2 separate regions of the Homo sapiens genome follow, and region 1 is linked to region 2. Evidence: fine-mapped expression QTL. A gene starts in region 2. The other region holds a variant in brackets. All regions are shown on one strand. Distances are from middle to middle. Region 1 overlaps BIN3 (bridging integrator 3). Region 2 holds the start of C8orf58 (chromosome 8 open reading frame 58).

Evidence for each region.
Region 1: its variant is fine-mapped to the expression of C8orf58 in blood mononuclear cells (TOPMed, PIP 0.98).

What each region holds. Positions count from the first base shown.
Region 1 is chr8:22,629,723-22,638,039 of GRCh38, reverse strand. It overlaps BIN3 (bridging integrator 3), which reads left to right. Exons shown (of 9, transcript NM_018688.6): 3 at 1,078-1,118; 4 at 1,454-1,515; 5 at 7,462-7,598; 6 at 8,036-8,076. Among named protein-coding and RNA genes, the nearest start is that of BIN3-IT1, 8.3 kb to the left of the region's middle. RefSeq lists enhancers at 5,838-6,372, 6,373-6,907. The variant T/C (reference allele first, on the strand shown) is at 3,673.
Region 2 is chr8:22,596,102-22,604,418 of GRCh38, reverse strand. It overlaps C8orf58 (chromosome 8 open reading frame 58), which reads right to left and starts at 4,820. Exons shown (of 7, transcript NM_001013842.3): 1 at 4,659-4,820; 2 at 3,062-3,537; 3 at 2,567-2,707; 4 at 2,339-2,447; 5 at 2,107-2,219; 6 at 1,776-1,882; 7 at 277-1,224. The coding sequence starts at 4,698. The coding sequence ends at 1,113. It overlaps LOC107986876 (a long non-coding RNA gene), which reads left to right. Exons shown (of 1, transcript NR_160769.1): 1 at 1-1,286. It also overlaps a transcript of PDLIM2 not described here. RefSeq lists enhancers at 2,256-3,133, 5,822-6,569, 6,570-7,317 and silencers at 4,421-4,880, 4,911-5,010, 5,376-5,435.

The sequences.
Region 1 (8,317 bases), 34 kb before region 2:
TGATGGTTACGAACACAGGCTGTGGAGCCAGGCTGCCTGGGTTCCATTCCCACTGTGCTCAACTCTACCCCTCACCAATGGGGTGACCTTGGCCAGGGTACGTAACCTGGTTCCCGGTGACCTGCCTTGGAGATGAGTGTAGAGAACTGCATTCTTGTAAAGCACACAGTGAGGGCTCTGTGAATGTGAGTTAGCGGTTTTGACTTCTCAGAGCACGAAGCCCGAAGCTGGCACCTGACGGCTGCAGCTCTGGCCAGGGAGGGCAGGCCTCTAGCTTAGTCTCCTTTGCCTCTCGATGTCATTTACTTCCCATTGCATGCCCATAAGAGACCAATCATGAGGCTCCGTTTTACAGATAGTGAAGTCAAGGCACCAGAAGAAAGTACTAGACTTCTTAACTTCATCTTCCGCAACAAGTGCAGCCCCGGGTTCAGGACTCACCCATTTGGTTTCAGTGTTGCTGGCTCTCAAGAGAGTTGATACCCGGTCGGGAATGGAGAGAGCCTGACCTGAGTCAGTAGTCACAGTGTCTGTGTTTGATGCATCCCAATCACAAAGCACAGGTGCACGATTGTTCCTGACCCACCCTGAGCCCAGCAGGGGCAGGTGGCCCTGAGTGGAGGGCCGCGTAGGAGGGGAGGTGCCCTGCATGGACCTGGAAACTAGGAAAAGGCAGAGACAGACCCCCAATTCCAGACCCGCCCTCTCCTCTGCACTCTGCTGCCTTCCTGGATGGGGTCCAGTCACGTTCTGAGCACCCTGACTGCCTCCAGCCTGGGGTGAGGAGGGCATGCAGCGAGTGCCTTGCTCCCAGCTGGGAAGAGCAGAGCCACAGTCCGCTGGCACCTGCCTGGCTGGACCCTCTGGGAGGGGAGCCTTCCTCCGTAATTCAAACACTTAATTAACTTGGGATCTCAGAAATACCGTGTCAGGAGCGATCTGTCGGTGCTTGTGTGAACTGGACCATGTTGTTTTCTGCGGACTGGGGCAGGGTGTGGAGAGAGTTTCAGGAGGCTGGGAGGTTTTTTCCACCGTGTTGTCATTTCTCCGATAATTGAGTTATCTCTCTCGTTTCAGGTGGAGAGAGACTTTGAAAGGGAGTATGGAAAACTTCAGCAGTGAGTGTCAACCCCAGAAAGATGAGGTGGGAGGCAGGGAGGGACAAGGGCCCCCTGCCAGGTCTCACCTGTCTGCCCCGTGCCCTGCCCCGTGAGCACCCTGGAAGCTGAGGGCAGCTCAGGTCACCAGGCTGCTGGAACTGTTCCCTGGCAATGGCCATGTGAGAGTCATTCACTCATAGCCTTTGGGTGTAGTGGCACTTCAGTCAGCGGGAAAAGTCCCCGTGGAGAAGATCCCTTTCTCCTCCTCCTTGGCAGGCCCTCCAGAGCACCTGGGCTTCGCTCAGGTAGGGGGAAGGAAGGGGACCCCAAGCAGCCCGTCCCCTGCCTTGCAGGCTGGAAGAGCAGACCCGGAGGCTGCAGAAAGACATGAAGAAGAGCACCGACGCAGACCTGGGTAGGTGACTTTCCACCCGCACCACTCGCTTGAGCAGGTGGGGCAGAGGTGGGCACCCTCCTCTCTCAGCCCCCCAAGGGCTCTGAAGTTGCTGCGCTCAGAGGACGTGTACCCAGTGTCCTGAGAAGCAGCCTCAGGGCAGTCACTCCTCACCAGTCACATCCCACTTTGCACAGAGCTCGCACTGCCCCACTCTGGATGTGGGTGCTGGGGCAAGGCTCTCCTGGGACTCCAGTCAGGACAGTACAGCAGCTGGTGGAAGCTTCTGGTAGCAGATGCCTCCATTGCCTCAGAATCCTGGCCACCGGCTCAGGCTGTCCAGAGGGAAAGGGAAGCACATTCCTTCCCGCAGAAACGAGACTCCGTGGCCTGCTGGGACAGGCGCTCCAGTGGCAACAAGAATGGAAGCTGTCATGTGTTTAAACAGGAGGTTGGGTTAAAGTGTAAGGCCAGAAATACCCCAGATAATTCTATGATGACAAAGGGCACCGGGAGGTCCTTGGGAAGTGGGGGCCAGCAGGTGCTGGGAAACAGCCAGGGCCCTTGGGGAGGTTTCTTGGCTGGAGAGCTCTTGTTTGAAACAAGGAGGAACCAGGCCTGGGAGCCTAGAGACACAAGCAGGTCGGGAATAAGGGAGCATCCAGAGCCCTTGCTGCAGGCCATGTCCCAGGAAGGAGGCGACGAGCAGCCGGGAGAGATGGAGACCATTCCTTGAGGTTCTTTCTCCAAGGCCTTGACTTTCCCACCCCGGAGCAGCAAGCACTTGACCAAAGGTTGATCAATAGCTTCAGCACTCCCTGCGCAGCTCTGGACAGCTGACTTAGCTCTACCTCAGTTCCGTCACCCGAGAAGCACAGGTAACGCCAATCCGAGTGGCACAGGCTGTTGCTGAAGATGAAGTTGGATGAGCAACGTAAAGCACTGAGAACAGGGCCTGGCACGGGTCAGCTCTCGGGGTGTCCGCTCCTGTCATCACCGTCGTCATGGTCGGCAGCAAGCCTCCCTGACTGGGTGGACTCCTGCAGCTCCTTCCCTGGGTCCAGTGGGGAAGCCGTGTCTATATACCACACTGGGACGAGGACCTGAAAGAGACTTGGGTATGGCCAGGACTGCCCACTTCCTCTCACTCAGCAGATGCTGACCGAGAACCCACGTGCACCAGGCACTCTCAGCACTAGAGACTCAACAGCAAGACAAGATGGGAGCTTACGTTCTAGGAGGAAGACCTGCAAGAGGTCCACAAGCGGATCGGTATATAATGACACGTCGTGGCGTGCAAGGTCAATAAAAATAAGGAGGTGGAGAGTGACAGGGTCAAGGGAGGCCTTCGTGGGGACGTGATCCCTGGGCAGAGTCCTGAAGGAATGAATAACCCACACAGGTAGAGCCAAGGGAAGAGGGCCTGAAACACAGTGGACAGCAAGCGCGGAGGCCCTAAGGTGGTGCACGCTGACCAGAGATGCAGGAGAGGCAGCAGGAGGGTGGAGAAGCCATCTTCAGTCCCCTCGGCCACTCCAGCTGCTGAATAATGCCATGTTATGGCTGTGAAGAAATTTCACCTCCCTGAGCTTTTCTGACCTTGAGATTGGCAGGGCACATGACACACCCATTTTATAAATGGGCATGTCCATTTGATAAAGGAGGAAGAGTTCAGCTCCTCTTCTCCAAGTCCAGGGCCTTGTCTCCACAGCGAAGCCTCCCCATGCCCCACTCATTCCTTTGCCCACCCCCGTGCCCGCCACCAAACTAGAAGGTGACCGAAACAGCCCCCACTCCGGAACCGTTGCCCATCCACTCTTTGCTTGGCTGTCTGTGAGCCTAGTGCAAATGGGGCGGCCTCACTGTCTCCTGACACCATTCAAAGGGCCACAGGGCAGTGGGCACCTACGGGTGGGACTTGAGGACCAGTGTGCTCCTACTTGGTACTGCAGTTACGAGGAAAACCCTTGAAATGTCCCAATAGAGGCAGTGATTTGAATTTGTTCCCATTTTATGCCAGCTCCTAAGCCTCAGCCAGTTACTGATGTGTAAACACACCTTTCCTACAAAGCACTGATCACAAAAGGAAAGCGTTCCTTCCCTGGGAGCCGCCGTCACCACCACCATGCCCGGGTGAGCGCTGACTGCCTGTGCAGGGACTGTGGCCGTCTTGGTCTG[T/C]GCCATGAATTTTCATGCCAGTGCTAATTCCTGGGCCGTGGGCTGGTCTGAACATGCACCTTGCTCCTGGCCTCTAGCGTTGCCAAACTATGTGTGTCACAAGCCAAGGACTGGATTTGGGAGTTTGTCTGCAGTTGTTTGTTTTGTAGTTATTTCAGGTCTGAGTTACTTGGGTCGCATTTTTCTTGATCGGTCCCCACTGCCTTTCCAGTTCGGGAGCTGCTGTGAGCCATTGCTTCCTTTCCTTCCTGCTTCTGCAGACAGCTGCATTGTCAGAGCATAAACGAAGCCAGGGTGTGCTGTGTTCACAGTGGCTTGCTACGGAACCAAGGAGGGCATCAGGGGTCCGTGACGCACCGTCCATGGCTGTGGAAAGCTTAGTTTCCCAGCAGAGAAACCAGAGTTGAATGGGTAACTGCAGAAGCCTAACACTACTGTCCTCAGTCAGGAATGGATGTGGGCAGAGACAGTGCCTCTGAAGAGCGGTGGTGGTGGTCATGGGGCCAAGGCGAGCCTGACAGCCACATCAGTCTCATGTACGGGGCATCAGTGTTGTAGGCGGGCTTGCTGTGCCGTGGGCCGCTGGGCCCCACCTCCAGCCTCCAACTAACTCATGAGCTGGGCGAGACCTGAAAATGTGTGTCCCTGGAGTTCCCAGGTGATGCTGAGGCCCACACTGTGAGCTCCACTGATCTGGACAGTTGAGGGGAATGGAGGGATGCTTTTCCTGAGCGTGGAATCTCCTGCGCTCCCCCAGCAAGGTGGAAAATCCCCAGTTATTCTAAAAAAGATGACCTTTCTTTCAGAAACTCATACTACTTTCAGAGTGCTCTGGTGAATCTTTGAATCTTACATTCCAGAGGCCGCATCAGGACTCCAGAGACCCGGGTGGGGTCCAAGACCCTCACTTTCTCTAAGGTTCAAAGATCACCAGCCTCCTGGTGTGGGCCAGGCTGACTGTGCCCCTCTCCCAGTCCCTGCAGGGAACAATGAGGGGTATGGGCTGGGGCAGGGACCACAGGTCCAGAGGGGCATGGAGACCTGCTGTTTATTTTTGTTGAGGGGGAACAGAGTCACACTGTGTCATCCAGGCTGGTCTCGAACTCCTGGGCTCAAGGGATCCTCCTGCTTCAGCTTCCCAAAGCACAGGGATTACAGGCATGAGCCACTACGCCCAGCCAAGACCATGGTGTTCTTGGTGTCATCTACCCCAGCTCTGCTCTGCTCACATGAAGCGGGGGCATCACTGGGCGGGGATTCCAGACCCAGTTCTGCCCAGGGCCGGCCACTGAGCCCACTCAGTTCCTTGACTTCCTGACAATGCAAGAGCTTTAGGAAAGAAAGGGGAAAATGCAGCTGGGCTGGGCGCAGTGGCTCACACCTGTAATCCCAGCACTTTGGCAGGCAAAGGCAGGTAGATCACCTGAGGTCAGGAGTTCGAGACCAGCCTGGCCAACATGGTGAAACCCCGTCTCTACTAAAAATACAAAAATTAGGTGGGTGTGATGGCAGGCACCTGTAATCCCAGCTACTTGAGAGGCTGAGGCAGGAGAATCACTTGAAGCCAGGAGGCGGAGGATGCAGTGAGCCGAGATGATGCCATTGCACTCCATCCAGCCTGGGTGACAAGAGCGAAACTCCGTCTGAAAAAAAAAAAAAAAAGGAAAGTGGAAAGACCGTGTCCTCGCTCCTCTGGCTTTTTGGGTTGTTTTCCTCAGATATTTTTTTAAGAAATAGCAGAAGATGTTTTTCAGAAACATTTCCAGCTTTATCCAGAATTTTATTATCTTTTTATTATGCTGTATGTGATCATTTCATAATCAAATCAAGTTATACGTAACGTTTGTTCCTAAATCTACAGAGTCACTCCACAGAATTTAAGAGGTGTTTTTCCCTCCGTTGCTTCAACATTTCTGGAAAGTTTACATTTCCAGCCTTCTCCCACAGTTTGCCCTTTTGCTGGTTGACTGTAGCACTCTCCCAGATTCCAGAAAAACCCCAGGAGGGTGCTCCGGGCTGGCTAGTCCGCTCAGCGCTGCTTTGCTGACTGGTGAAGGGGCCTGGCGGAGGCAGACCCTTCCCCGGGGAGCGCAGGGTCAGGGTTCAGGTTCATGCCATGGAGTGCTAGGCAAGGCCACATCTGTGATTAACTGGGAGGCAGACCTTATGTCATGGGTCCTAAGACACTTTTTCCACAGTTAATGTCTCTGAAATCAAAGTACTGAAAGTGTAGCCTGGTTTGATTGACAACAATTTTTTCTCCCTTAGTAGTTCATACAATAAGTGACTTATAATGAAGAGCATCTTAAATTCAGTAACATGCATATGGTAAGAAATGCATTCACAATGTGTCTTCTCTCCTGAGACCTGCCCCAGATGCACTCTGACACTGGTACAGACGGCATCAGGCCAGCATGACCCTTCTCCAGGGCCGCTTCCTGCCCCTCCAGAATTTTGTTTCTAGAATCTAGAAATAATGGAGGCCTGAAAACATGTTCAGGACCAAGAGCTCCAAAGCTGCCAGCAGGTCTCCAGCCCGCCTCTGAGCCGCCTGTGACTCCCAGGCTTCCCATCTGCCCAGCAGGGAATGTCAACACAGGAGGGAGGAGCACAGAGGGGTGGGCGGCACATTCATGGGGATCCGGTACCAGGGTGCCTTGAAAAACGTCAGTGGATGCCTGATGGACAGAGCCTGATGGACCTGTCCACTGGCTTCCTCTAGGCCAGATCAGAAGGAGAGCAGTGAACAGGGAAGCAGCTGCCCAGGGTCAAGGGTCAGGGCCCGGCTGGCGCACTCAGCCGTTTGACCTTGGAGGCATTACAAACCCTTTTGCGCCTAATCTGCCTCCTCGCTAAAATGGAACCAAACTACATTTCCGCTAGACATCCCCTGGGTTGTTTGAGCCCTAAATGAGAGTGCATGGGAACCTTGGCAGAACCCTAAGATGGGGACCTGCTGGCAGCTTTGGAGCTCTTTGTCCCGTACAAGTCCCCAGGTTTCCATTATTTACAAACAAAATTCTGGGGGAGCAGGAACAGACCCGGGAGGAGGGCCCTGCTGTCCCAGTCCCGCCTGTACCAGCTGCAGTGTGTGTCTGGGCGAGTCTTGGGGGAAAACACATTTTCCAGCGTATCTCTTCCTACTGGATATTGAGGAAACCAGGGGTTGGCAGGGTGCAGCTGCTGGCCTAATCTGACCTAGTTTTGTCAATAAAGTTTTATTGAAACAGCCACATCCCTTTTTTTATGTGTTGTCGCTGGCAGTTTTCACAGCACAAGGCAGAGTTGAGAAGTTGCAACAGAAATTGTATGGCCCACGAAGCCTGAAATATTTACTGTTGGGCCTTTTGTAGTAAAAGCATGTGTAAACTGGAGTACTGTTATTCTTGTCCATCCAGGAGTCCCAAACCAAGCATCACGTCCAAACCACTTGGAGAGCGGTTTTAAATGCATATTCTTGGGTACCGGGTTTACTGAATTAGAATCTTTGGAGCCAGAAACATATTTTATAGCCTCCCACCCAGATGGTCCTTTTCTAACCCAGGGTTTGGAGAACAGGTAAAGCGGCTCAAAAGAATTGTCTGGAGCAGTGTTAGGGTCAGGAATGAACATTAAACCATGGGGATCAGCAGCTTGTGGTTGTGTGGTACTTCGCCGTTCTTGACGGCCGTGGCTGTGGGAAGAGGTCTTCAGGGTGCAGGCCCCTGGCATAGGAGGACGGGGTCCTGGAGAGAAGGCCGTGAAACCTGCCCCTTCATAGAAGGTTCACCGAGCTTTGGCTTCCCACAGCCATGTCAAAATCTGCCGTGAAGATATCCTTGGACTTACTCTCCAATCCCCTCTGTGAGCAAGACCAGGACCTTCTGAACATGGTGACGGCCCTGGACACGGCCATGAAGCGGATGGATGCCTTCAATCAGGAAAAGGTGACTAGGTCTTGGTGTGGGGTGGGCAAGCATGACTTCTGCCCGGTCTGGGCCTCTGGGTGGACTGTGCGGGGAGGCCCGAGTGGGCTCCCTCTGCTCTCAGGGCTCTAAGCCCTCTGGCCTCGTGTGCTGCAAGGTGCTGCAAGCCCACAGGGCTCTTTCCAGACTGTTCTGCCTTGGCTCTACCTGCCTCCTGAGGCTCCACGAGCTCATGTTACTTACTGTGAGGGTTGCCGGCGGCAGTCCTGTTCACCCCAGCCCCTGAGGCTTCTGTGGCCAGCCACCCGGCCTCCACCCTGAGCAAAGCCAGGCCCAGGACAAGGACAGCACCCTGTGGCCCTTTAGACTTCCTAGCCCTTTGGTAGTTAGGGGCCCTGCCTTGCGTGTCGCCCTCCCCTCCCCACCAGTTTTAATGTCTTTGGGTTTTTCTTTGACAGGTGAACCAGATCCAGAAGACTGTGATCGAGCCCTTAAAAAAGTGAGTAAATGTCACCTGGGGGCCTCGGGGCACTTATGGGAGAGGCAGGTCAGCAGCCACTTGGGGACTGAAGAGGATTTCTAGCTGCGTGTCCCCAGATTCCCATGGGGCCTGACGGGAAACTCAGTGGGGACGTCAGCTCTGTGACCTGTGGCCTAAGCGTCCATGCTCCTGGGGGCTCCAGAGTACCCACATGGCCCAGGCGAGCTCAGGGTACCCCTGCCACCACCCCCTTCCCACC
Region 2 (8,317 bases):
ACTGGAGGAGAAGGATGCCTATCAGTGACCATTTCTAAGAGACATTCCTGGTCTGACTCAAGCCAGTGACCACCATGCCTAGCCAGTCAGGAATCAGTGCCCTAATTCTCAAATATGAAATCTAAGAGGCCTCAATGAAATGACCTGCTCAAAATCTTGCCAGGAGACTGGCCATTTTAGTCCCCATTAGCAATCCCAGCCCCCCCTTATCCTCCGACCTCCCCATCATCACTCCAGCCTTACTTTCCCCTTTCCTATTCACCTGAGGTTTACAAAGCACTTTGAGGCAGTTTAATCTCACTTTATCCTCATAACAAGTCTGTGAGGTAGATAGGGCAGGCATCATTATTCCCAGCGGGAAGCTGTGGCTCAGAAAGGTTGACTTGGGGTCTAAAAACTAGTACAGGCATCTGGTTTGAATTAAGACCTGTAAACGCTAGTACGGAGCAGAGAAGCTGAGCACTGGCTTTGAAAGTTATTCAGTTCCCAGGTTGTCCCTGATCTTCCTCATTCCTTGTGCAGTCTTCAGGAGTCCGGGGCAAGATTCCATGCAGAGGCAGCCAAAGCCACACCGTTCTCTGTCCCAGGGCTGCCAGCATGGCTCTGAGGAGGAAAGCTCAGTAACTGCCCACTGGGGAATAAAGGTCAGTTCCATCCTTCTGCAGTGACCTCCCCCAGAATATCAACCCTTTGGATGCATTATTTCAGAAGAGATGGTTGGATCCAGCCAGCTTGCAACACTGACAGTCACACAGAGATATGCATACCATTGCGCATAAATACACATCTGCAACATGCTGGGCCCAGACAGGTCACCATGCCAAAAACACTCCACGGACACCTGACAATGAGTGAGTTCACATTGTGGAAGCCCAGGGATTTCTGGTGAGGAGGAAGAGCCCTGGAGCTGCGGCATCTTGGGGGCCTCTCAAGAAACCAAGGTTCCTGACCAGACTGCTTAGAGGAGAAAGATTCAGCCCTCGACTCAAGAGAGGAGGGCAGGCGTCAGCAGCTTTTCCTGGCAATGTGGAGAAGCAGCAAGAGGGCAGAGGGCGAGGAAGACTTCACAGCAAGTCCCCTCCACCCAGGGTCACCAGGTGCACCGAGAGGTCTCAGCCTACAGAAAGGTTTTTTGCTCGTTGCTTCTTAACCACTAATGATGGCATAAAGGTCTTCCGGTGGGGGCGGCACTGAGGCCTTTCAGGGAGGTCCCTGGACTCGATCCTGTGGAATGAAAAGAAGACATTAGGCTAGAAGGGGGAAATAAAACTAACAATGGCCCTAGAGTTGAGAGAACGTGGTTTATCTGCTGGTGGGTAGCTGGGTGTGGGCGCAGCCCGGGGCTGTTAAATGACTTGGTATTTCTTCCTCCTGGAGAACGATTCAATACAAGCCCCGAAGCATGATGGCCTTCACCCACTGTGAAATCCTTTGTGCTCCACCTTGCTCTCCCCACGAACCTGGAAGGTGGCCTAAATGTCAGCATTGAGGGTGAGGGGTTGCTGAGCTAGGGTAGGCAGATTTCCCACATTCTGGTCCTAGCTGTCACTGACTCACCGTGCGGCTTTGGAAAAGCAACTACCCCCAACCCCACCCAGAACCCTGCCTCCTTATCTGTAAATGGGGTGTTTTAACTACTGTTTCTTCTAGCAGCCCCTCCCAGACTGCCTCTCAAGTTTTGCGGGGACAATAATGACAACTGGCATGACAATCTCAGCATCCTGGCTTATCAGTCTCCTCTCCGTGCCCTAACCTGGGCTGGGCACGGGGCTCACCTGGGGTCAGAGCCATCAGGAGGGGCAGGGGGCTCAGGGTGGTGGTGGCTTCTCCGGCAGATCCGGTTGAGCAGGACCTTGACCTTGTCCCAGTGGGAGATATCCCGCTGAGCAGAGGATGAGGGGTCACCCAGAGCCCTCCCCACACTCAGACCCCCGACCAAGCTCCCAGAGACAGCTGTCGCCACAGCCAGGACAAGTCGCCTGCTCCAAACAGGAATCAATCCTGTCATTTCCCCAGAGTTGCTGGCCCCCAGGGTGCCCATGCATCCCCCACCTCCCCTCCCCCCACCCCAGCCCACCACCTGCCCCACATATACCTGTCCCCTACCTTGTGTCCCTGGGAGGATGGCAAGTGGTACGTTGGCTCCACTGGGGTTTCTGGCAGCCTGGGAGGGTTGGCACTGGGCACCTCCACCTTTGGGGGTGAAGCAGCCTTTGCTCCTTCAGAAAGACAGTCAGGTTGGCCAGGGCCAGAAGACACCCCATCAAGCTTCGGCTCAGAGGACCTGCTGGTGGGACCCCAGGCAGGCAGGACAAAGGGAGACACGATGGCCCCTCACCTGTGTGCTCTGTCTGGCTTAGCAGCTCCCATGGCCCCTGCCCCCGATTGCCTGGGGTGTGTAACGGGGACGGTAAAGGGGCTCGGGTCGACTCCTCCTCGCCGGGATCCTATGCACAGGAGAGACAGGTGATCAGGGCCTGGCTAGAGGGCTGAAGCTGCTCTGAGGGCAGCCATGGTTCCCAGGGTCCCATCTGTCCTCTCCCTCCCCCACTCGAATCTCACTCACCCCTGGGGGCCTCTGGATCCGCAGCTGCAGGTAGAGCTGCTGGAGCCTTGCCATCTGCTCCAGCACCAGGCACAGGTGTTCCAGATAGCGAAGACCCTGCCCGGGGAGGCAGGCCCAGGCTCCAGGCCCCAGGCCCCCCACCTGTGGGACATTGTGAGATAGGGGAGATTTCAGCCAGTAGGGCTCCTGCCCTACCCTAAGCAGCCAGGCTGGGCTCAGCCAGCAGATGGGAGCAGAGTGGGCCCCGAGGAGGAACACACGCAGCCGGCTTCCCCACTGCCCAGCGGGGCATAGTGCCAGGAAGGGCCCCCGTAGCTGCCCACCTCCTCTGCAGAGGTGGCCGTGCACAAATGGAACTGGGGTGCAGAAAGAACCTATGACACAACCCATCAATTAGGGGCAGGGAGTGCCCCACCCAGAGAGAGCTCCAGGGAGAACCAGAGGAGCTAGGCTGTCCATCCCACTCTTAAACCCAGCCTGAGAGTGAGCACTCACCGCCTCTTCTTCCAGGCCTGCCTCTAGGTCTGTGTCTGCCTCCATGGACTCCTGTTGCCCTGCTCCAAGGGGCACTTCACGCTCAGGCTTGCTTGCCAGCCGCAGGGAGCGGTGTTGTCCTGACAAGCTGGTGGGAGCTGTTGGGAGCCGGCGGGACCGCTCCAACACCTCCCCCAGCTTCTGGCTGGCCAGGAGTCGGCCTACCTGGGCGGGGGGCTCAGAACTCCCTGAGGATTCAAAGTCCAGGGAGTCCTGAGAAAGGCCCGGTAAGGCGGCCAGGGGGCTGTCCCCAACTGCCATCTCCACTCCTGAGTCCCGGGAGGCCAGTTTGAGAAAGAGTGCCTCCCTGCCGACACCTCTGAACTTGTCACCTCTCTCCCAGGATGAGCACCCGTGGGCAGCGTCGGGGATCCGTCTGTAGGTGCTGGTGACTCCAGGCACTATGCAGCCCCGTGCCAGGCCCTCGCCAGCCCCATCTGCATGGAGAGTCAGCGTCAGGCTGGGCAGGCCACCCCCAACACCCCCAGCATTCCTGAAGGCTGGCAGCACTGCCCCAGGGAGAAGTGTCCCGGAGCAGTGAGGAAGGGCGGTCACTGGACAGCCACGGGCAGCCCGGATATGGCCCCAGCTGTCTGGGAGATGTGTGGATGGGATTCCCTTCGCAACGGTTGTTAGCGACAGGGAACCCGTGCTCTGAGCTGTGTGGTAGGCAAAGCCCTGGCAGGCCACATCCATCAATCCCTTAGACGGCCTGCGCCTGCGCTTCCCACCTAGGATCAGCCCACGATCTCCCGAGTCAGAAGTAGGGAGCCACAGGCTCTTCCGCTGCTCCCCAAGCGGGAGTAGGACTGTATCCAGCTTCAGGGAGAGGGGAGAGGGTACAGAGAGGAAAGCCTGGGATCCAACCTGCTCTCTGGGGGCCCCTGCGGCATCAGGATGCCAGGTGAAGTCTCTCCTGCAGCTCACCGGGAGAGTGATAAAAATCACCGCTATAACCGATTTGGGCTTTTGTTGTAAGTGAGCAATAGTGAAGATTTTATGAAAAGTTTAAAATGAAAGAACTGAAGTGAAAGAAAGGGACGAAGGGGCAGCATTAGCACCCCCTCACTGTCACCTCCGCCAGGCCCTCTGGCGACGGGGCGTCCTGGCGGAATGAACGGTACGGGAAACAGGCTAGGGGGGCGGGGACGAGCTGCGGGGCACGCGGGAGCCGAATGCCAACCCAGGCCCCTCTGGGCAAGGAAGTGGGCCAGGAGGTCACTGGGTGGGAGAGGGGTCCGCAGCCACGGAGGGGGCTGGGGCGCGGGCGGATTCCCACATCCTCAGAAGGAGCGGGAAGGCGAGGGAAGCGGAGCCGGAGGAAGTGGGGCGGAGGCGGTGGCTGGTTTAACGCCTGGGCCCAAAGGGGTTCCAGCCTGCATGGCGTCCCCTGATGACCGCCCCTCCAGGGAGGCGGCGAGGGAGGCGCAGCGGCGCGGGCTCCGCCCGCGGGGTGCGCGGGGCTGGGCAAGAAACTGAGAGAGGGTGCCCGGCTTGGGGGCGGGAAGCGGCTCCGGGGCAGGGGGGAGCCCGGCCAGCCTGGGGGTGGGTGACTCACCCCGGCCGTCCACGGCGAAGGCGCGCCGCCGGCCCATCATGGCCCGCTCCCGGCCCCGGCCCCGGCCAATGCAGCCGCCCGAGGATCCCGGCCCGAGTCCCCGCGGAGCTCGGGCAGCTCAGGGAGCGCGTCCCGACCCAGCTGGGCGCGGCCCCCAGACACTCCCAGCGGGGCTGGGGGGGCGGGGAGCGGGGCTGGGGGGGCGGGGGGCGGGGCGGTGGGGGGCGTGGCCTAGGGGGAGGAGAGAGGAAGAGCGAGACGAGGAAGGGAGGGGCGAGGAGAGAGGGGAGGGGCGAGACGAGGGAGGGGAGGGGCGAGGCAAGGTAGGGGAGCGGCGAGAGGAGGGGAGGGGCGAGGGGAAGGGGGAGGGGCGAGGAGAAGGGGGCGAGGAGAAAGGGGCGGGGCAAGACGAGGGATGAGAGGAACGAGGCGAGGGAGGGGAAAGGAGAGGGAGGGGAGGGGCGAGGAGAGGGAGGGGAGGGGCGAGGAAGAGGAGGGCGAGGGGAGGGGAGAGGAGAGGGTGGGGAGGGGAGAGGGAGGGGAGAGGGGAGGGGCGAGGAGAGGGTGGGCAGAGGAGAGGGAGGGGAGAGGGGAGAGGGGAGGAAAGGAGAGGGGAGAGGGGAGGAGAGGAGAGGGGAGAGGGAAAGGGGAGAGGAGAGGGAGGGGAGGGGAGAGGAGAGGGAGGGGAGGGGAGAGGAGAGGGGAGGGGCGAGAGGAGGGAGGGGAGGGGCGAGAGGAGGGAAGGCAAGGGTGCCAGGTGGGGGGCGCAGGTGGCCGGGTCGCCAAGAACGAGGTCGAAGGCACGGACTGGGTGGCGCCCCCAACTGTGGCTGTGGCCAAAATAAGGGTCCCGATCAGCTGTTCTGCGAGGACCCGGCCCCCGCCTGGGGACGCCGTCTGGCTCGGGGCGCCGGTCCGCCCGGCCCCGCGGGTTCACACGCAGCGTCCGTCTTCCTGCCGCGGACTTAGAGCCGGGGCTGGCTGGAGGACCGGACAAGAGCCAGGAAGGAAATGGGAGCCCCACGTGCTGGCGGTGGGAAGAGCGCTGACCAGGACGCGGGCACCCGGCGCTCCCTAGCAGTGTGGCTTGGGGGCCAGTCTCTTGGCCGCTCGGAAACCTGGGCGATGGGAGGGGAAACGATCCTGCCCACCGGGAAATCTTTTACAACTGCAGAACGCGCGTGTGTCCTCAGCTAGATCTGAACCCCCTCCCGGTCCCCTGCCTCTTTCTCATCCCGGGCTCCCTAAAGCTGGGGACTGGGTAGGTCTCAAGGTCTGGAAAGATGCGAGCCAGCGGGGAGCCGCCTGGAGACTGGGCCAAAGTGTAAATGTCCCCCTGTTCCCACCTCACCCTGCCTTTGGCCCGTGGGATTCCACCCCTCAGTCCCCAACCTAAAAGGAGCCCAAGAAGCTACTGAAGATGAGAGAGAGCCTGGTGACCAGACTGGGGCTGGTGTCCTCTAAAGAAGGCACCTCCTCCAGAGGGAGGGGGCAGGGCTGGAAAAATCCCAGCAGGACCCAAATCCCCCGGAGGCAGATAAGGGAGCTGGAGGACGTGCAGACTAGCACCTGGACCTCTAGGGGAGGGGAGAGGCTGGAGCCAGAGCCACTGGAAGGAAGTGGCTGTTTACCGGGAGGGGTAAGACAGTCTGTGCATCCCCTTCCCTTTGCTCCTTTCTGGAACCAGTCCCCAAACACCCACTGCAGGAGCCTTTATCAGAGAGCCACAAACTATCAGATTTTAAAACTTTATAAAATGGGGAAACTGAGGCCCACAGCCAATCTCTGCGCAGGCCAGCCGAATGACAGCCAAGTGCCAGAATTGCTGGCCATGTCTCAACAGAGTCACATTCAAGCCCAGGCCCTTCCCTGCTAGCCATGGGTCCTCTGGGTTGCCCCCACCCTGCCCAGTCCTCCTAGACAGTACCCATTCCGCTTCTCACAGGCAGAGAGAGAACCAGAGTGCTGGGTCTCCAGGAACTGCCTTATGCAAGACCAAGAAGATGTGTGGAATCACACCCCGGCCGTGCCAGAGCCCTGCCAGCCCTCCCTGGGTAGGAGGGAGCCCAGACTCCCTCCAAAGTAAGAGGGTGGGGGAGGGAGCCTTTGCCAGATCGCGCCCTGAATTTGGAGAATGTGGGGCGGGATTCCAAACAGTCTCTGTGGTGACTCTGGGACAGGAATGCATCTGGAAACAGGAAGCCCAGCCAGCAGGAATGCAGTGTCTCAGCACAATGCTTTGTGTGTGACTCAAAAGAACCTCCACACACACACCCCAACACACACTCCCCTCCAGGCCATGGCGCACCCCTCCTCCCCACCACCGCCATGCAGATGCGTCCTGGCCCAGGACCAGCTCAGAGGAACCTGAGCCCTGGCGGGCACGGGGGCAGGATCTGACCCAACACCCAAAGTAGGGGGATGCCCCCTTCCTGTGGCAGCCGCAGTCCCAAGCCTAGAGCCAGGCCAGGGCTCTCTGAGTGATGCTTGAAGGAATGGGAGGGGCAGCCCGTCCATGCACTCCTGACAAGGTAAACCACTGCCATGAGTTCCTGAGACAGACAGTGTCCTGAGCAGGGTCAGCCCTCAGGCTGCCCAGTGGCCCCTGCACTTCCCATGGGGAAGTCCTGGCTTCAGGAAGTGGGTTTCCTGCAAGCTCAGCTGGAGCTAGTACCCGTGGGAGGAAGCACAAAGCTGAGAGCCTACAGAGCGCTGGGGAGGGCTGTGGTGACCTCCAGTTGTGACCAGAGGTGACCAGAGCTGTGCCTGGAAGGCTGCCTCTGATGACAGAGGGACAAACTCTGCCCCCCACAAGCCAGAAACCTGGGAGGCAGGCTGTAGATCCATTCCTTACTAGCTAGGAGTACTTGGACCATTTACTGAACCTCCTGGTCCTCGGTTTCCTCGTCTGCAGAGAGGATGGTAACAGTACCTATCTCGGGTTGTGAGGATTAAGTGAGTTAAAGCATTGGAAGTATCCCTAGCACATCAAAAGCACCCCCAGAGCTTAGCCATTATGACTGTCTAGCTGTGCAGCTTTGGAAAAGTCACTTTCCCTTCTCTAACCAAAGGGGGTTGTACCAGATGCTCCTTTGGGCCACTTCTAACTCTAATCTGTCACTTCAGTTAATCTCCTCAGTGCAGGAAGGGAAGAGGGCACTGCACTGGACAAAGTCCGGGAACATAGACGGGCGGCGTGCGGCAGAGGGAGTGGGAGCACGCAGCTAGCTGGCTTAGGTTGGGGACAAGATCAGAGGTAAAAGACCAAAAACTGCCTGTCCCCAGCCTCCTCTGCTGACCAACTCATAACTCCGTTCTTCCAGGGGAGTTTGCTCCCGAGCCGGGCTGATTGTGTGGCTGCAGAGAACCCTGGTGCTGAAACCCTCAGGACCCCTGGGAGGAGAGATGGCTGCCACACCAAAGAACAAGAGCCAGAGGGGGATTTGAGCTGGAACCTACAAAGCCCTCAGAAGGCATTCGATGCCTCACTGGAATGCCCATCATTTCACATGTCCCCAGTCCCCACTTATCCCCCTCCACTCCTATGACACTGCTGGCCCAGCATGGCGTGCTACATACAGGTGGGAATCTGTCCATATCAATAATCCAAACCATCTTTTCCAACCTGTCACTTCTCTGCTTAAAACCTTCCAAGTGTT